Regions from separate parts of the Homo sapiens genome. Here regions 1, 2 and 3 are each linked to region 4. The links come from fine-mapping of genetic effects on gene expression. A gene starts in region 4. Each other region holds a variant in brackets. All regions are shown on one strand. Distances are from middle to middle. Region 1 overlaps CDH13 (cadherin 13). Region 2 overlaps CDH13 (cadherin 13). Region 3 overlaps CDH13 (cadherin 13). Region 4 holds the start of CDH13-AS2 (CDH13 antisense RNA 2).

What was found.
Region 1: its variant is fine-mapped to the expression of CDH13-AS2 in whole blood (TOPMed, PIP above 0.99).
Region 2: its variant is fine-mapped to the expression of CDH13-AS2 in whole blood (INTERVAL, PIP 0.93).
Region 3: its variant is fine-mapped to the expression of CDH13-AS2 in whole blood (TOPMed, PIP above 0.99).

What each region holds. Positions count from the first base shown.
Region 1 is chr16:83,723,981-83,729,131 of GRCh38, forward strand. The region is part of intron 10 of CDH13 (cadherin 13); the gene reads left to right. CEDORA (CDH13 antisense oligodendrocyte and neuron associated lncRNA) reads right to left here. Exons shown (of 4, transcript NR_188499.1): 2 at 4,888-5,019; 3 at 1,495-1,608. Among named protein-coding and RNA genes, the nearest start is that of CEDORA, 46 kb to the right of the region's middle. RefSeq lists an enhancer at 3,958-4,458. The variant T/G (reference allele first, on the strand shown) is at 3,090.
Region 2 is chr16:83,741,797-83,746,920 of GRCh38, forward strand. The region is part of intron 10 of CDH13 (cadherin 13); the gene reads left to right. The region is part of intron 1 of CEDORA (CDH13 antisense oligodendrocyte and neuron associated lncRNA); the gene reads right to left. Among named protein-coding and RNA genes, the nearest start is that of CEDORA, 29 kb to the right of the region's middle. The variant T/A (reference allele first, on the strand shown) is at 3,221.
Region 3 is chr16:83,767,493-83,772,643 of GRCh38, forward strand. All of the region lies in intron 11 of CDH13 (cadherin 13), which reads left to right. All of the region lies in intron 1 of CEDORA (CDH13 antisense oligodendrocyte and neuron associated lncRNA), which reads right to left. Among named protein-coding and RNA genes, the nearest start is that of CEDORA, 2.9 kb to the right of the region's middle. RefSeq lists an enhancer at 1,981-2,120. The variant T/A (reference allele first, on the strand shown) is at 2,063.
Region 4 is chr16:83,801,942-83,807,085 of GRCh38, forward strand. It overlaps CDH13-AS2 (CDH13 antisense RNA 2), which reads right to left and starts at 2,035. Exons shown (of 3, transcript NR_120308.1): 1 at 1,728-2,035; 2 at 1,494-1,587. RefSeq lists a silencer at 292-451.

The DNA.
Region 1 (5,151 bases), 78 kb before region 4:
GATGAATGTGGAATGCATGGATGGATGATGAATGCATGGGTGGGTGATGAACGCATGGGTGAGTGGTGAATGCGTGGGTGAGTGATGAATGCATGGGTGAGTGTGGAAAGCATGGGTGGGTGATGAATGTATGGGTGAGTGATGAATGCATGGGTGGGTGATGAATGCATGGGTGGGTGATGAATACATGGGTGAGTGATAAATGCATGGGTGGGTGATGAATGCATGGGTGGGTGATGAATGCATGGATGAATGTGGAATGCATGGGTGGATGATGAATGCATGGGTGGGTGATTAATGCATGGGTAGGTGATGAATGCATGGGTGAGTGATGAATGAATGGATGAGTGTGGAATGCATGGCTGAGTGATGAATGCATGGGTGGGGGATGAATGCATGGGTGGGTGATGAATGCATGGGTGAGTGATGAATGCATAGGTGAGTGAGGAATGCATGGGTGGATGATGAATGCATGGGTGGATGATGAATGCATGGATGAGTGTGGAATGCATGGGTGAGTGATAAATGCATGAGTCGGTGGATGAATGCATGGATGAATGATGAATGCATGAATGGATGGATACATGGATGGATGAAGTTGTACAAGCTCAAACCAGCTCAGATTGGAGGAAGCGTCTTACTTGAAGCCCCCTGTGACTATGTTGGGGCTTGTCTCCTACCATCTCACTGAAGGAGCCTATCTCCTAAGCTCTCTCCTAGACACCTGTATCCTTACTTTCCCCTCCCTTCCCAGCCTGAGCAGTGTCAGCGTCAGGAGCAAGATGATTGATGAAGTGTCAGCAGGGACACAACCAGCTGGGTGAGCAGGGGCTATATTGTAACCTGCAGCCAGGAGCTGCTCCCTTGAGATGGCCTTTGGGTACAACTCTATATGGCTTCCCAGCCTTTCTTCCAGCTGCAGGATCATCCTACCCCTGGGACTCCCTTATTGGTGTCCTCATTAGGCCAATCAATGCAAATTAAGCCCTGATTCACAGATAGTGGGGATATACAGTCACCACGACACATATGGCCTCTGTCATCCAGTTTCACTCAGTCTAGAGAAAGAAAGAGATGAATAAACAGACCCTTTTAGTATAAAAGCTATGATGAAAGTGACATTTGAGGTGAAAACACTACAATATAACAGCAGCAGAGAGAAAGGCACATCAGTCAAAGTCAAGGAAGGAAGGGACAGCTGGGCTCAGACTTGCAGGTAGACCAGGGCAAGGATGTTCAGGCAGAGGAAATGGGATAAACAAAGGCATGGTGGCCAAGAGAGCTAGATCCGTTCACTCAACACACAGGCAGGACTGCAACGGGTCTTGTGTATCCTGTGGATCTAATCTATCCTTAGGCGTCAGTCTGGGAAACATGAGTTCCGTCTTCTCCACTAATCTGGGAAGGAGGGTCAAGTGGTACCTCTGTCTCCACCTCCTCCAGGCCTACACAGTTTGTGACTGACATACTGAGCACCAGGTCTGCATCACCCACCTTATCACATGTGGGCACAGGATCTCTGCCGGGGGCAAGCGGTATGATGTGTCCTGGTCACGGTCTGGCTGGTGATTTGGTTACATCCAGACACGGAAGTCGACCTAGAATAACCTAAGACAAAGGCAGTCGTTTCTCTGGCTGACATTGTCAGAACGTTAAACAACCAAAAACAGCAACAAAGTGATGGGCCAAGCAGGCAAGTTTGGGAACAGCTTTAATGACTAATTTCTAATGAGAGTTTCAAAACACTAATTTTCCAGAACAGAGAATCAAGTTGTGCTCATTTATAACCCGTCATCTGCAATGAGACAGAGGATATTTCTTTCTGTGTTGTCAGTTAACTTTCTGAGCTGGACAGAATACAAACTAGAAGAGGTGGGCCGTAAATCAGCTCCTTTGGAACTGATAAATGGATATTGTACAAATCCTGCATTTGCATTGGCTCTGAGGACATAAATCAATTCTCATGATCTTACTTTGGAAAAAAATTTCCCTTTGAAGTCAGACTGAGCGATTTATGTAGCATTCTTTCCTGACTTTATTTTTCTCAGCTTTTTAATGATTGTCTTTTCACTTTCTGCACTTACACAACATTGTAAAGTGTTGCATTTTCATGTAGAGAAAACTGGACCTTGGTCTGAATCTTCCCACAAGGGATAATTTTATAACTTTTTTGCTCAGCCATTGAATAACAATTGCTTTTGGAAAGATTGTCATAATGTATCAGTTAGAAGGCACCTTAGAGACCATCATTTCACATGACCTCTGTTTTTTAGATGGGGAAACTGAGGCCCAAGAGTGACAGTCATGTGCTGCAGGTCACAGGCCAAGTTTGTGACAAGACCGGGGTGTCTGTTCGGGTTTTGGAGAAACAAGGACCCTAGATAGGGTCCATTCATTCATTCATTTATTTATTTATTTGTTCATTCTCCAGACAAATCGTTATCTTGGCCCCTTCTGCTGCAGCCATTGCCACTAAGAAGGCAGGCCCTGCAGGGGAGACTCTGCACGTCTTTTGTTTGTTGAGTATTTGCTAAACGGGCAAAAAATGGAAGAAAAATCAAAACATCACTGTTGGCTGGGCACGGTGGCTCACGCCTGTAATCCCGGCCCTTTGGGAGGCCGAGGCGGGCAGATCACGAGGTGAGGAGATCAAGACCATCCTGGCTAACACGGTGAAACCCCGTCTCTACTAAAAATACAAAAAAAAATTAGCCGAGCGTGGAGGCGGGCCCCTGTAGTCCCAGCTACTCGCGAGGCTGAGGCAGGGGAATGGCGTGAACCCGGGAGGCGGAGCTTGTAGTGAGCGGAGATGGCGCCACTGCGCTCCAGCCTGGGGCGACAGAGCAAGACTCTGTCTCAAAAAAAAAAAAAAATCACCGTCCTTTTTTGGCGTTCTGTCAGTCAAGAGTATTCTGAAGACTATCGAGGGAGGAGTGTTTGGTTTGTGCCTTGTTTTGTTCTGTTTTAGCAGCCCTGGAAATCATGGATACCTCCCTTCCTTGAAGTTATCTTTCCCATGTATAACAGCTGTATTGATTTATGAGATATAATTCACATACCGTACAATTCACCCATTTAAAATATACAAT[T/G]CAATGGTTTTTAGTGTAGTCACAGAGTTGTGCAACCATCACCGCCCTCGATTTTAGAACATTTTCAGCACCCTAAAGAGAAGCCCCATCCCCCTTAACCGTTAACGTGCTTCCTTCTCCCCACTGCTCTAGTGACCACTAACCAGCTTCCTGTCTCTGTGGGTTTGCCTAGTACGGACATTTCATCGGAATGAAATCAGCTAACATGTGATATCCTTAATGGTTTTGTAGCAGAAAGACATCTACGTGGGAAGGGACGCTGCTGAGTGTTTAGAGAACAGACACATTCATCATTTTATTGTATTTTCTCAACTTTAGAACAGTTTTCAAACATGTGGAAACGTTGGAAGAATTTTATAGCAAGCACCCTTTGCCCCATCACCGAGATTCTCCCAGCACATCTTCTTCTGCTTGCTTTATTTAGTGCACACCTATCCACCTGTTCCAGAGATCACCACTGCGGCAGTGGGTTCTCAAAGGAGAACCTTCCAACCTTCCCGCATTGAGAAAGAAAAATATCAGTTTTACTAAATGAAATATCAACATTGGAGATTTTATAAGCCGAGAATGTTAGTACATCAACATTAGAAGCCCTAAAAAATAAAATTGCATTCAAAGGCCAAAAAAGTCTTAGGCTTGCTAGCTCTCCAGGAAAGGCCTGTGTGTTCAGGACAGGAGGACTAAGGACCAAACAGGTTTGGGAATGACAGATCCCTTGACGGAACTGGCTGACAACTTTGCTCACCAGTCACAGCAGGGCAGCCCAGGGAGTGAACAGGGGCGTTGGCGGGGAGGGCAGCCATTCCCGCCCGCTGCTAATGGGCTCGCTTCTCAAAGGAGCTTTTGGGATTCAAGGGTTTAAGTATCAAGTTTGACTGATGGATTTGGAGGGAAGAATTGAAAACTGCCTGAGGGAAGGCGCTTTGCTTTTTCTTTTGTGAGGCAAAAGCTTTTGAAAACTGTGACTGTACAAAGAGCCACAGCTCCTCTGAGGAGTCTGTTATGCGGCAACACATACTCAGATGTGGACAGCAGTGAGCACGCTGCCTGGAAAGGGGGAACAGCACCGCGGGCAGGCTTCAGAGCCACACACCACGTCTCTGTCTCAGAGTCTATCCTCGACCACAGGGTTTAAGTCTTTGATGTGCACACTGGGCCCTGGAGAGAAGGTGCCTGTTCTCACGGGCTGACCCCACAAGCCTGTGAGCCGTAAGCGGTGTGATTCGCTAACAGTTGAATGGCACTGGCTATGTGTGTATGTGTATGTGTGTGCGTGTGTGTGTGTGTGTGTGTTGTGAAGATACATTTAGTTTGAGTCCCTATGAAACGAGGAGAAAAGGTCTTGACAAACAACAGTTCAATAGCTCCTGCCAATATGTGCAATGCAATTCTTTTTAGTGAGTGAATTAGGCTTGATAAGAACTACATTAAAGCTTCTGTTGGAAGAGGAATTCAAAATGCTCATCTTTGTAATTTACCCACTCAGTCACCAGTGTTTACCAAGTGCCAATGGAAGCCTGGAGAGAAGAGAAAGCAAAGATAAATAAGCGTGTCTCTCGGCCTTCAAAGCACTGTGCCCAGCAGGAAGGAAAGCACACAATTACGACATGCCGTTTTTATTGTATATATGTTTATATATTAGGTTGGGCCATGTGAAATTGCTGATGTGACGGGTTTTGACGAGAGAAATGGCAACTGTGTGGTTCAACCTAATATTTAGATAGTATTGTCTTAGCTCAGGCTGCCATAACCAAATACCACAGACTGGGCAGCTTGAATACAGACATGTATTACTCACAGTTCTGGAGGCTGGAAGTCCAAGATCATGGTTCTAGCTGGTTCAGTCTCTGGGGAGGGCTCTCTTTCTGGCTTGCAGACAGCCACCTTCTTGCTGTGTCCTCATGTAGCCTCATTTCCTTGGGGCATGTACCTGGAGGGTGGGGATTAGGGAGCATACAGGGTCTCCTTTTATAAGGATCCTCATCCTATCAGATCAGAGCTCCATCCTCATGACCTCATGTAACCTTAACTTCCTAAGGAGAGGCCCACCTCCAAGTACTGC
Region 2 (5,124 bases), 60 kb before region 4:
CCCCTGGGCCACGGACGGCCCCAACCCCTGGGCCACAACATCAGATTGTTATTGGAGCACAAATCCTATTGTGAACTGCACACACAAGGGATCTAGGCGGCACACTCCTTATGAGAATCTAATGCCTGAACTGAGGAGGAACAGTTTCATCTCCAAGCCATCCCCCACCTGTTCATGGAAAAATTGTCTTCCACGAAACCAGTCCATGGTGCCAAAGAGGTTGGGGACTGCTGCCCTACCTCACAGAAAGCGAGTGACCCCAAGAAGCCTGCAGAAGGGACTTGTCAAACCTTTGATCTCTTTCACCTTCCCACCAATACTTGAGCCCCTGAGGGCAGAGGCTGGCAGCCCTTGGCTCTGGAAGTCCTTCCAGGTCAACAGCTGGCCCTGGCCACTTGCCTGGAAGCTTTCTTCCCTGCTCTGAGGGGGCCCTGCTGAGAGTGAGCCCGCCTTCCAGGGTGGCGCAGGCCCCAGTAACCCCCACTGCGCTGCCTGCGACTCGAATTCTGTTAATCAGTTTGCCTTGCGTCTCCCAACACCGACACCCAGAAGAGGCCGAGGCTTGGCAAGCACTCAGAGCAGCTTCTGTGAAGCTACATTACAGGCTGAAATGAGCTCAGCTTTTAATTTGATTTTTTTTTTCCTGTAACAAGCAAAGTTCACATTACAGATAAATTGCCCGGAAATTCCAATTTAATAAGGCGTATGCATTTTTCAGGCCTAGAAGCATTGAAAACATCTTGCACGCTAGTATTTTTACACTGAAAGGTTTATTAAAAAGACAGCTTTGAAAATGTCAGAAATTTACATAGCGCGCCTGGCCGATTGGTCAAAAAGCCTGATTGGACAAAAGCGCACGGAAGCCAGGAAGCGGGAGAGCAGGCTGTTCCGTGGTCTTGAGCTGTTCTCCCTCCACATCGGGAACGATGGCTCCACCGTTCATTGTCTCCACCCAGCTCTTAGTTCATGTTACATGGGTGCTCAGCAAATGAGTGTCCGTCTGTCCTCCTCTGTCTGCAGGTGTGTTTCTGAGTAGGAGCAGCAAGCTGTCCTTCCAGGGCATCTGTGGGGCAGGCATACCTCCTTGAGGTCTCCCATGGGAGGAGGCACCAAACAAAATAAGCAAACTGGCCAGGTGCGGTGGCTCATGCCTGTAATCCCAGCACTTTGGGAGGCCAAAGCAGGTGGATCGCTTGAGGTCAGGAGTTCGAGACCAGCCTGGCCAACTTGGTGAAACCCCGCTCTACTAAAAATAGAAAATTTAGCCAGGCATGGTGGCAGGTGCCTATAATTCCAGATATTTGGGAGGCTGAGGCAGGAGAATTATTTGAACCCAGGAGGCAGAGGTTGCAGTGGGCTGAGATCGCTGCCACTGCACTCCAGCCTGGGCGACAGAGCAAGACTCCGTCTCAAAAAATAAAATAAAATAAGCAAACAGAGGGGAGCAGAAAGAGTCCTGTGAAAACTCAGTTAAATAGCACAGCTCTGGATACTTGATTATTTTTTTAAGGAGGAAAAAGAGTGAGACATTGTCCTGTAAAATCACCCAAACCCTGGCTTTCCCTGGAAATGTGGCGCAGGCAGGCCTAACCGTGCTGAGTATTGTTTCTGAGGACTGCCTCCGAGTTCATGTCTCTAAGCATTTTATTGAATACAACTGCTTCTTTGACAAGAAACAAGCAAACATGCTAATTGTACAACAAAATTATGGCATCATGGGACAAAAAAGGAATGACAGAGGGAGCATCAAAGAGCATTGCTTGTACGCCAAACATGAAAGCCAAATTTATTTAATTCAGTTTTTATTTATCTTCTAAACTGAGTTGAGTAATCAGGCAATAGAATGCGGTTCATTTAAAACTTTCATTATTTCAAATATGTTGAACCACTACCAATCACTCCTGGATCAACAGGAAACTTGCTACCTGATGAGTTGCCTTTTTTCTTTTTTCTTTTTTTTTTTTTTTTTTTCTTTGCTTTTTCCATCCCCATGATTGTTCCAACAGAAGGAGAAAAGATGTAATAAACCTTTACCGGGCACCGTCTGCGTCCAGGCACTCTACTCGGCCCTGGGGGTGCAGAGCACACCACCCCAGCCTTAGGCATGAAAAACACTGTGTACCGAGAAGCCCAGCCCCTGGAATCCAGCATGCTGGTGCTACATTCCAGCTCTGTCTCTTATTAACTGGGCCGCTTTTGACAAGTTGCTAAGCCTCTCTGATTCTTGGTTACCTCAACCTTAAAACAAGGATGATACCCACTTCATCAGGTTGTCATGAGTCACAAAAATAAATGTAGTGATGCTCTTAAAGGGTTTAGCACCAAGCTGGGCCCAAGGAAGCATTCTGTGTGTCTATTGACCAACTTTTACCTATCCTGACACCAAGGAGCTTAGAGTTTAGTGGAGATGGCAGAGCCGTCAGGGCCCGTGTTAGGCTCCCAAAGGCATTTTTACCAGTGCATGTGCCTCGCACAGACCTAGTGAGGTGATTAATTCTACTGGGAAAGTCACACTGGATGAACGAGAGGAGACGTATGAGTGGGGTCTTGAAACAGTAAAAATTTGCCAGGTGGAAGCATAAATGACTCTTTAAATGAAAGCCTGGTGTTTTTAAAGCAGTTCATTCTCATGAGTAATTCATCGCTTCTGTTTTCACAAAATAGTGAAAGGATCATTGCAGCAGCAAGGGCATGTGGAAGCCCTGCGTTCGCCTCATCCGTTCTCCCCATCTGTCCCCTGTCACAGTTGCAGCATCAAAACATTGTTCCCCTAGGCTCTGCTGAGTCGGATGTTTCTGAAACATTCCAGGGGACCGTGTGAGTCACATCAGGGAGGACACACAGGGCCATGACCCCAGTGAGCCATTAACACACCCATAGCCTGACTCTGCAACGGCTCCCCCGAGGGCGCCCCGCACAAGACCAAGCCCTTTGTGTCAGCTTCAGTTTGCCCTCACAGCTACCCCAGAACACCACTGGGACTGTCCCCGAGTCACAGAGGAGGAAGTAGAAACACAGAGAAGTAGCTTGCCAGGCTCACTGTTAGAACCCAGGTCCTTTCCTCTCCAGAGTCCATGACTCTAACACTCATGTGATGCTGGCAATGTGAACGGCTGGGGGGAAGCAGCAGAGGGTGACAGCAGGCCTTGGCACCAGAGATCCAGCCTGCGAATCCCAACCATGCCCCATATTAGCCAATGATCTTGGCAAAGTTCACATA[T/A]CTCTAGGCCTCTCAGTTCCTCATCTGTAAAAGGGGAGGAATAATATTATCAACCTCCCAGGGCTGGTGTGAGGGCTGAAGGCATAGATGCTGGAAGCTCCTGGAGCGGTGTCCAGCCGGCGCAATGTAAGGCTCGATGCTGCTGCAGCTGTGTTACTATTAATATTAAAGGGAGGCTGCACCCCGAGGCTGTTTTAGGAAAGAACAGGCCAGACGCCTTCCAGGAAGCATCAGCAGGAGCCTCTCCTGGCGTCCTTCTGCAGTTTGGGGGTCTGGTACATCCACTTTGCAGGACAAAAACTTGATTTGATTCTCAGGTCAGTTCACATGACCCCAACACAAAAAGGATTGATACCAACCCAGACCGCCTCTGTGTGAATTAAATTTACAACAGCGCTGTATCAGAGCATCTGTCAATGCTGACTGGAAGCCCAAAGACCTCCAGATGATTGGTTCTGAGACTCCAGGAGAGGCTGGGAACACTCGGAGGGGCTCTGGATGGTGGCCAGGCGAGGGTGGTAGGTGAATTGCTGTCTGTCCTGGGTCGCCATGAGGCTTGTGGTGACTGCATAGATGCCCATTCCCTTTGTCAGCCAGCAATTTCTTATTCCCTGGCTCCCCTTCTCAACAACCCAAGTTGACCATCCCTTCTTCAGTGACCACAGCCTCCCCCAGGTAACAATCCCATTGCAGCCCCCAAGATGACCTTTAAGTCATGGACAAGGGCAGTTCTTCTTCTCCTTGGCCACACAGGAGGCATCCCTCTGGCTTCCACCTACATCTGAATAATCCCACCCACCACACTTCGATTCAACTTAACTCTATCCTCAGAGGCCACCTTTTCTCAGAATTCGTATCTTCTTCGAAGTAAGATCCTTCAGGTGAAACATACCTGCTGACCACCCACCCTGAGTCACTAAGTTAGCTGGGAAGCAGCAGTTTTGAGTGTGGGTTCAGGGTCGCAGCTCCAAGGTCAGACCACCTGGGCCCACGTCCTGACTCTACGATTTGCGTAGCTGTTGGTTTGTGCCTCAGAGTCCTCATCTGTAAGTGGGGATATTATACCTACTATAATAAATTAGTAATGCCACGGTAACAAAGTATTGCAAACATGGAGGCTAGAAATTTATTCTCCCACAGTTCTGGAGGACAGAAGTCCAAAATCAGTCTAACTGAGTCAAAACCAAGACGTTGGCAGGGCCACGTTCCATCTAGAGGTCTAGGGGAGGGTCCTTCCTGCCACTCCCCACTTCTGGTGGCTGCAGCATTCCTTGGTTTGTGGCCACATCACTCCAATCTCTGCCTCCACGGTCGTGTGGTCTTCTCCTTTTCTGTGTCTCAAATCTCCTCTGCCTCCCCCTGAGGACACTTCTGATTGCATTTAGCAAACCACAAACAACCCCAAGATAACTCAAAATAATCTCATCTCAAAGACCTTAACTCAGCTCTGCAAAGTCTTTGCTCTATGAAGTAACATTCCCAAGTTCCAGGATTAGGAGGTAGATATCTTTTTCCCGTGAAGACTCGGGGTTAACTTGCTCCAAGCCCTTCAGTTGGAGATTTTCAATCCTGTTGGTTAAATCAGGTTTTAAACATCCTTAGACCCAAATCTGGCCATACAAGGCAGAGAAAATCAACTTCATGCATCTTTACCAGTGTAAAGATTCCCATGTCACTTCATGGGGATGTACTTCAAAGATGGGTAGGAAATGGCAGCAAAGTGCCAACAGCATCTTTCTGGCTTAGGTCTGCAAGTGGCACATTATCCAAGCCACCCAATTCAAAGAAAGCTGAGTCATGCCCAGTTGAGTCTCCCTGATAGATAAGACTATTATTTCTTACTCTATGCATCTATATTGTTTAAATCTCAAAAGAGCAACCTCAAAACAAGTAACATTTTAAAA
Region 3 (5,151 bases), 34 kb before region 4:
CTTTCCTTTACAAATTAGCCAGTCTTGGGTATATCTTTATTAGCAGTATGAGGATAGACTAATACAGAAACATTATTCGTAATAGACAAAAAGTGGAAACAACTCCAATGTCCATCAGCTGGTGAGTAGATAAACAACATGGTCTATCCATACAATGGATTATTATTCAGCCATAAAAAAGAATGAAGTATTAATACACACTGCAACATGTACAACCCTCAAAAACATTATGCTAAGTGAAAGAATCCAGACCCAAAAAACTACCTACTATATGACTCCATTTATATTAAATCTTCAAAATAGGCGAATCTGTAGAGACAGAAAATTGATCAGTAGTTGCCAGGGGCTGGGAGTGGGCATGAAGAGTTAGTACAAATTGGCCCAAGGTTTATTTTTGGGGGTGATGAAATGTTCTAAAAGTAGGTAGTGGTGATGGTCGCACAACTCTGTAAATGTACTAAAAATTAATAGTCGCAAAAATAAAGAGTAAGAAAAAAGTAAAGTAGAATTAGAAAAAAATATTTTTAATCCCTGCATAATTCTGAGTTTAACATGTTCATGGTTATTGTAAAGAAAATTAAAAATAGATAAATGTATTATTTTAATGTTAATTACCTAGGGAAATAATCACCACTTACATTTTTATATATGTCTTTCTAATTTTTCTCTAATCATATGTAGATTTTTAAATTAGGATCACACTATGTTTTTAGTTATGTCTATTAATGACAAGATATAAAGCACTTATATATATAGCTACTGAACAACAGAACCTGTGAAAAAAAAATCTCAGTGTTTTTTAGCTAAGTGGAAATCCTGTTTGGTCAAGGTTTTTCATGAAATAAAATCCCTGAAATTTAAATAGACAAAAAAACACACACACAAATTGTAATCGCAATAGGTTTGTTAACCAATGCACACAGCAAATCAATATGCCATGACACCAGGTTGCAGCAGAGAAACAGGTTTAATCATAGTGTTAATGGAAAGGGGTCATGATCCAGACCCCAAGAGAGGGTTCTTGGATCTCATGCAAGAAAGAATTCAGGGCTAGTCCACAGAGTAAAGTGAAAGCAAGTTTATTAGGAAAGTAAAGGAATAAAAGAATGGCTACGACATCGAGCAGCCCCAAGGGCTGCTGGTTGCCCATGTTTATAGTTTTTTCTTGATGATATGCTAAACAAAGGGTGAATTATTCATGTCTCCCCTTTTTAGACCATATAGGGTAACTTCCTGATGTTGCCATGGCATTTGTAAACTGTCATGGTGCTGGTTGGAGTGTAGCAATGAGGATGACCAGAGGTCACTCTCATCGCCATCTTGGTCTTGGTGGGTTTTAGCCGTCTTCTTTATTGCAACCTGTTTTATCAGCAAGGTCTTTATAACCTATATCTTGTGCTGACCTCCTATCTCATCCTGTGACTTAGAATGCCTTAACCGTCTGGGAATGCAGCCCAGTAGGTCTCATCCTCATTTTACCCAGCTCCTATTCAAGATGGAGTTGCTCTGGTTCAAACACCTTGACCACAGGGTCACAGAACGAGAAGATGGGAGGGAACCTCAAAGCCATTTCCCCAAGGAAGTTGAGGCTTGGGTTTTTGAGGGCTTTGGAGTGGGCAGAAGTGTGGAGATCAAGAGTACAGGGTGAAGTCATAGGAAGGGGAGAGGAAGCAGCTGTGTTCTCATGCTGATCCTGTTCCCCTGTGGGAGACTTCCAACTGGTGGCTGGAATTCTGGGGAGGTGTGTCTGAAAAACATCTTAAGTGTCTATAGGAACAATGGGGATGCAAATCAATTCTTAAACAGTCTTCTGGCCTTAATGTCAGAGATCCTATCTAGGGGAACGGTGGGGAAGCAAATGTCAGGATCTAGTGCTACTGTAACTGAGGAACTGGTTAGCCACTCACTGCAGCAGAGTCCAATTAACAAGATCCAGGCCTGGTACAAGAAAAGTGAATTTATTTTTGAAGCTAGCTTGGAAAGACACAAAGTGTCCTGCTTTAAGTGTGCTGCTTCATCTTTGGAGCAAAAAGCAGACATGTTTATAAGGTTAAAGGGGAAG[T/A]GAGCAAGGGCAGGAAGTCCCCCTGCTAGCCTGGTGTCTTATCTACCAAACAGCTGAGTTGGCATACAGTTGAGTTGGTGCCTTCCTGGGCAGAAATAAGTTGTAAAAGTGGCCAAGTGGGCGTGTTTTCACCATGTCCTCCTGAGGCCACCCCAGAAGTGGGAGTTCCGTGGAGATGTGCTTTGATCTGCAAATTGACTGTCAATTCTGGAGAAGAGATCACTGGGGCACGTAGATGACCTTGCCTTGTAGGGAATGTGTGGTGAGGGGGAGGTGAGAGGTTATTTTGCATTTCAAAAAGGGCTAGGTAGGAAGCAGGCTGAAAGGGGAAAGGAGAAGAGAAGAGAAAAAAGTAATTAAACCACCTCAGAAAAATCAGGGTACTTGGTTACGGTACATGACCTACTGCAACAAGGAACTGGGCCAGGGTGCAGCCTGATTAACGCTGAATTATAACTGTATTTGTACCCAGAACCTGGCATGCAATTCCCGTCAACCCTGTGGGGATGGTTTCAAAACCTGACCCTGTTTCTCATTGCATCCACACCCACAGCGTCAAAGCAATGCCAGGAGAACCACGCGTGGCTCATGTTTCTTGGAGGAGTCCTGGTTCAGTTCTACAGGCTTCCCACACAAAGCAATATACTGTTGGCCATGTAGGTAAGAAAAGCACAGGAAACTGTTTTTTACCCTTTCTACCAGTGTTTAGTACCAACCACAAGCACCAAAATACTCAAACTTCGAGCTCTGTGGCTCTGGCTCTTATGGACGGGGAAGTGCTTTACAATTGCCAGGCATTCCATTCACTTTATAGAATAGCCAGAAAGCTCCAGGGATGGGGATGCCCTGCCAGGGGGCCACAGCTCTTAAACAGGTGACATGCTTGTGACTGGAAAGAGGTCCCGATCCAGACTCCAAGAGAGAGTTCTTAGATCTCACGCAAGAAAGAATTCAGTGCGAGTCCATTAAGTGAAAGCAAGTATATTAGGAATGTAAAGGAATAAAAGAATGGCTACTCCCCGTAGACAGAGCAGCCCCAAAGGCTGCTGGTTGCCCATTTTTGAGGTTATTTATTGATGATATGCTAAACAAGGGGTGGATTATTCATGCCTCCCCTTTTTAGATCATAGAGAGTAACCTCCTGATGTTGCCATGGCATTTGTAAACTGTCATGGTGCTGGTGGGAGTGCAGTAGTGAGGACCACGAGAGGTCACCCTTGTCACCATGTTGATTTTGGTGGGTTTTGGCCAGCTTCTGTACTGCAACCTGTTTTATCAGAAAGGTCTTTATGTCCTGTATCTTATGCTGACCTCCTATCTCATCCTGTGACTTAGAATGCCTTAACCACCTGGGAAGGCAGCCCAGTAGATCTCTGCCTCATTTTACCCAGCACCTATTCAAGATGGAGTTGCTCTGATTTCAATGCCTCTGACACACTAATGTTAGAGCACCTTGGACATTTTCCTTAATCTGAGTGTCTAGTTTTCTTTTCTAGAAAATGAGAAAAAACTAGAATGTAGACCCCCATGTGCTCAAAGCAACAGCCTGCCTGGTTTGCTTGGACTTTTCCTAGACTGTATGATAACAGGTGCTCGATTCCTCTACGTAAATCTTCACCTTTTATTAATCATATTACCCTGCTTCTCTTAGAAAACGCACAGTTCTGCCCTCCCTACACCAAGATCACAAAAGGCTAAGTGTAAGTCATGAGCCAACCAGACCAAGAGTAACCCAGGCAGGCCAGGTGGCCAACTTGGCCATCTCATAGGCAGTTATCACTGCTCAACTTGAAGAAATACAAGGTTAATTATTGGAGTTTGAAATCCAGCAGTGGAATCCATGTGGTCCTATCGTGGTCATATAATGTGCTGAGGCTCTTACAAGTTGTCAGTGCTGAGTGGGAACGACAAAGCCAGAAACAAGGGCAAGCAGAGGTTGAATGCCAGGAAGACCGTGGCAGGGTGCCAAGTCCATGAAGCAAAAGCACCGCCATGGTCTAAAAGGCATAGTCCTCTAGAGCAACAGAGCCAGTAACTCAGATCCAAAGGAAAGAAAATGATAACCCTTTCCCCCTCAAGACTTGCCATTGTATGGCAGCAGGAGGGCTGCTTGCAAAATAAATAACCCACCAACATTTGTAGGTTGGAGATCTCTCAGTCAAGAGTGACAGGCTGTCACTGAAAATGGGTCGGAAGGAAAACTGTCATTCCTACTAAGCAATTTTAAATAGGCTTTGTTTCCAGATATCTGTGCCTACAAGTCCTCATTTCCTCATTTGGAAATGGGATTTGATATGGTTGTATTAGGAGGTAAAATTAAAAATATCTCCTTACATCCCATTCACACTGCTGCATGATGGAATTGCCAACCTTGTAACCAAAACACATGTCTTTCTAATAAGAAGTCAATGACACAAGAGAAAAGAGATTCCTGCAGCTAAGGTTTGCTCCTGGTATTTTCCCCATGATATCACCCAACACAATGTACACTCTGTGGGTGGAGAAGGATGGGGGGTGACTTTTTAGCTTGTATACTTATTTGAGAACCTTAAATGAGATGCCTATTAAACTATCCATGTATACAAATAGACTCAATATTAAGAAAAGAAGTAGTATAAGACTGAAAGACATGCTTAAGAGAAAGGAGGGAGCCATACTTCAGGAATGGAGAAATGAAGAAAAATCTATACTGGCTAAAGTCAGGTTAGCTAGGAGGGAACATATGAGGAAGGCCCAAGTCTTATGCTGCTAGAAGCCAGGGCAGAGGCAGTAGGCTGGAAAGGACCAGTGGTCATCTTGGAAATATGTGCTCCACTTGAAGCCATTTGGATAAAAAATAAGAATTCTTAGAACACTGGACATCCCAGAAACACGATAAATTAGCAGACCAAATGCCAGTCTGCAACTGCTGGTTAAAAAGAAAAATCCAATTACTTATAACACTGAATATAGGTCAGCAGAAACTCCCGGCATCAAAGAAACTCTGACCATAAAGACTTAGTGTATATTTTTACAAAACACTTCACAGGGCCTTGTGGATCAATCATGGATTCAATTTTGTTCTACAAATTAAAATCAAGCCATGTTTA
Region 4 (5,144 bases):
CTACGGGCCGGATACTTTACGTATCTATATAGATGTGTATATACATATTACCTTGTAGTTATATTTGTAATTTATGTGTAATACATAATTATATATCATATACATAATTTATGTAATAGACATTAGCACCATTCTATAGATGAAGAAACTGAGGTTCACACAGTTAAAACTATCTCACAGTAGGTCTCACGACTACTAAGTGATATGCATGGCCCCACCCTGGCACTTTTCTTGCTATATGCTAAGGCAGCACCACCCCATTTATCTCCAGGAACAAACTGTGTCATCACAAACAATGCATGAAAGTGCTGAGGACTAAGCAAGTTGTCAATGATGGGGGATGAAGCAGAGGAAACCCAAACTTGCAAATCTGGTCTATAAGAAAACTTTCCTTCCCCCTAGGCAGTCTGTCTCCAGGAAACTGCTAGTTTGGGTAAATAAATAGCAAACGGATGCCTTGGCAGCCAGTCATAGAGACGCTAATTTGGAAATTTGCCTCAAAAGAACATAAGAAACAGAAACCAATGCTTCAATCCGAAAGCAAGAGAACGTGAAATTGTCAGAACAACCACCGATCACACCATTCTCCCCGAGAAAAGCAATTTTCTAGGTTTTTGTTTGTTTGTTTGTTGTTGTTTGATTTTTTTACAAACAAGTCCTCAAAGAGACCTCCTTGTGCTTTGGTAATGCGAGGCAAAATATCCACTCATTCTAACCAGGGCACACCCTTGAGAGGGTAGCAACGCTGGATTTTTACATGGGAATCCAAGCCAAGAAGACTGGTACCAGGATGGTGGTGTTTCTAGATTAAATCTGCCGTTCTGTGTCTGTAACTAAGCCCTACCTTTGCTTGGATGATGACTGTCGTGCCCCAGCCCCTCCTCGTGCCAGCGGGACAGCATCCTCCTCCTGAGGCTTACTAGCACCTGAAGGATTGTTCTGTGAAAAACAGGGACCCAGCACCTGCTGACATCCCTCAGCATCCTCTCTGAGTTTATCCCCACGGAGAAGAAGCAAGTCGATGTTACCCTGATGCAGTCATAGTTCCTGTGCTTCCCCTTATCAAATTTTGTAACCATGTTGTTTCACAGCACACGCAATGTCTTCACCCTTTGGCTCCCTGCCTTCTTTCAAGGCAGGATTTTCTAAACTTTAATCCCAAGGGAATATCGTCCCTATTTAGCCGTCTCCCTGTCTCATCTCTCAGCACCTTCACTAACTCTGCCACACTGAAATGCCACCTGTACCATCAGCTACAACTCTAGTTTTAAACTACGTAATTTTACATTTATAATTTTGGCTTGAATTTATTTTAAAAGAAGCTGGTACATTGGCCGGGCATGGTAGCTCATACCTATCAACCCAGCATTTGGAGAGGCCAAGGCAGGTAGGTAGATGGTTTGAGCCCAAGAGTTCAAGACCAGCCTAGACAACATGGCGAAACTCCATCTCTACAAAAAATACAAAGATTAGACAAGCGTAATGGTGCATACCTGTCGCAGGAGGATTGCTGGAGTCTGAGAGGTTGAGGTTACAGGGAGCCATGACTGCGCCACTGCACTCCAGCCTGGGTGACAGAGTGAGACCCTGTCTCAAAAAAAAAAAAGAAAAAAGAAAAAGAAAACTCTACATTATAACAACATGAATGAAAAACCAGTATCACTTGGAATACAATAAAGCAGCAGTAAAAATAAATACAATGAAAACAAACAAAAAAGCATAATTACCTTTTAGCTGGATACTATGTCTACTTAAGGTCTGCGTATGAAACTCTCTGTATTAAAATGAGAGATAGATAAGGATTAGAGAGGTCTCAAAGACACAGTAATATCCACCTGAGACCCTCTGCTTGTCAGGATCACTCAAAGAGAAATGAAAATGGAATGAATGAATGTCAACCGTGTGAGTCAGGCTTTTGTATCACCTGTCCACACAGCACCTAGAACCATTTTAGTAGAAGCAAAACAAGCAAAGTTGCATGAACAGGAGGTAAGGAAGTGGATCAAGTAACTAAGACAATAAGTCCTTCCTTTCTAGAAGCTCCCCTATGAGCAGTAGCTCAACAAGGGCACACAGTCAGTGGAGGTTCACCCTGGTTGGACTGGTTTCCATTTTCTATTTGTTTTTTGTGCAGCGGGGGTGGGGCGAGGGGTTGGTCACTTTTATGTGCTGAGAAGGAGGAATCATTGGAAAAAAGAAAATGAATGCAGGAAGCAAGTTCCTGGAGTTGAGGAAAGAGAATGGGATCAGGGCCCAGGTCTCTCTGCCTTAGACAAACGCAGAGCCCTGTGCGCGAGGAAGAACACTGCTTCCTGAGACAGAAAGGATCGTTAGCTAGTGACACGGGGGTTAATGTAGGAACTTAGGAATGCACGCAGGACGGGAGTTAAGGGGTTTTGATGGACAGTCTCCATTTTCTCCACAAAATAGAATATAAGGTCATCCTCTGAGGGTGAAGGGGATAAAGTCCTGGATTTGGGGGGACCAGAAAGGTTTGGAATGGCTACTGAAGGGCCAGGGCTAGGGCAGCCCAGGTCACTAGAAGGAAGGGGCACCCTTCACTGACCCTGCTGTGGCACCGCCCATCAGGTGAAGGTTGCTCAGCAGCAGCATGAGGCAACCTGGGAGGAAAGCAAACCAGGGGAGCAGCTGCTGGGCCCCAGGGCTGGGCCTACAGAGCTGACGCAGGTGCAACTAGGCAAAGAACATTCCAGTTCCTCCAAGGCCCCGCTAGGATCATTCCATCGCTGCTCACACAAGGCAAACGCACAAAGCACCTCATTGCATGTGGTCACATGGACAGACCAACACCTTCCATAGTGTATTTTATTATTACTGTTTTTTGAGACAGAGTCACAATCTGTTGCCCAGGATGGAGTGCAGGGGATAGATCTCGGCTCACTGCAACCTCTGCCTCCCCAGGTCAAGCGATTCTCCTGGCTCAGCCTCCTGAATAGTTGGGATTACAGGTGCACGCCACCTAGCCCAGCTAATTTTTGTATTTTTAGTAGAGATGGGGTTTCGCCACACTGGCGAGGCTGGTCTTGAACTCCTGGTCTCAAGTGATCTGCCTGCCTCAGCCTCCCAAAGTGCTGGGATTACAGGCATGAGCCACCATGCCCAGCCACCTATCATAGTACAGATCCAAGAAAGGAGGCATGTCAAAAGAATGGCCCAGAGAACCAAAAAGCAATTATAAAAGTACCATAATAAGCGCACGTAAAACAAAACTGTCTTGAATGGAAAAAGGGAGTTACAACATGCAATTAATCTAGGAAGAGCTTTAAAAAAAAAATGCCAAGAGGAGGTAAGACAACTATGACACTTAAATAAAGGTTAAAAATGAGAGTTGTTCAAAACCGAAGTTTAAAGGTTAATTACTGGTGCCTTACACGTAATACATTAGTTTTGTTAATGGGACAATATTCAGTTAGGTTCGGTGTGTCAGCCCCACAAGGTGAGTATGTCAGCCATGAGTATAAATTAGTGAAGCTTCCGTGAAAAGCAGCCCTTTAACAGACCTTGGTCTCCACACAGAGAAAGCATACTGCCTGTCTGTTTAAGTGCAAAAAATAAAGGAACAAATAATGCCTCCACTAAAAGAGTATCAAGTTTGTTTGTTGTTCATGTAAAGCAAATTTCCAATTGGAATTTGAAAAAAAAAAACCACAAGTGTCTTACCAGAAAAGGAAAGAAAAACTCCAGATTCTCGTGCTAATTCATGTTCCTGAGTTGCCCACAGCCATAAGACAGGTTTGCTCAGAGATCCAGGGTGCAGGCACCCAGCTTTCTTTGCTGAGTGTGGGAGTCCCAGGGATTGGGGTCTAAAGTCAGAAGCCTGAGGGCTTTCTTCACCTTGGCTATTCACTAGTTTTTAAGGAGTTCTGAAGTTTTATGAAAAGTCTTTTACGATTAGCTGGGCATGGTGGTGCTCACCTGTAATCCCAGCTACTCAGGAGGCTGAGGCAGGAGAATCGCTTGAACCGGGGAGGCGGAGGTTGCAGTGAGTCGACATGGTGCCACTGCACTCCAGCCTAGGCAACACAGCAAGACTCCATCTCAAAAAAAAAAAAAAAAAAAAAAAAGTCTTTTAAGAAAACTGAGATACTGGCATCTAGTAGGTAGAAGTCAGAGATGCTGCCCAACGTCCTACAATATACAGGGTGCCCCCTCCACCACCAACAATAAAGAACGACTTGACTCAAATGCCAGTATTGCAGCTCTTGAGAAACTCTGCTCTAAGCTCAAAAAACTCAGAGAATTCTAGAATGGTGAGAAAAAAGGAGAAGATGCAGAGTCAGGAAGTCCTGCGTCTCTTACTTCCTTAATTTGATGACCTTGTTCCAGTTTCTTAACGCCTCTGCATCTGTTTTCTCAAAAATGTAAAATTATGATAATTATATCACAGGGTCTTCTGAGGATTAACTTAAAACACTGAGATATTTTTATTTCAAGTAGTCGGGTAAAGCACTAGCCAAATACCAGTTGACAACAGCCAATTACAAAAAAGTTGTGTATACTTACACAGAAAGGAAGATCTCTCTATAGGAAAGGATGAGGTGTGAAGGGTGAGGGGCAAAGGTGTGAGTGAGGGGGAAGGGGTGGTAAAGGGAGTTGAAGTCTCATGCCTCAAGGCCAACTGGATTCCGGGTTTGTTAGAGACACTGGTGGGTCTGGCAGAGGCGTTTGAACAAGAGCAACTCCATCTCGAATAGGAGCTGGGTAAACTGAGGCTGAGAACTACTGGGCTGCATTCCCAGACAGTTAAAGGATTCTAAGTCACAGGATGGGATAGGAGGTCAGCACAAGGTACAGGTCATAAAGACCTTGCTGATAAAACAGCTTGCGGTAAAGAAGCCGGCCAAAACCCACCAAAACCAAGATGGCAATAAGAGTGAACCCTGCTTGTCTTCATTGCTACACTCCCATTACCGCTATGACAGTTTACAAATGCCATGGCAACGTCAAGAAGTTACGCTATATAGTCTAAAAAGGGGAGGCATGAATCACCCACCCCTGGTTTAGCATATAATCAAGAAATAACTATAAAAATGAGCAACCAGCAGCCCTCAGGGCTCTGTCTATGGAGTAACCATTCTTTTATTCCTTCATTTTCTTAAACTTGCTTTCACTTTACAGACTCG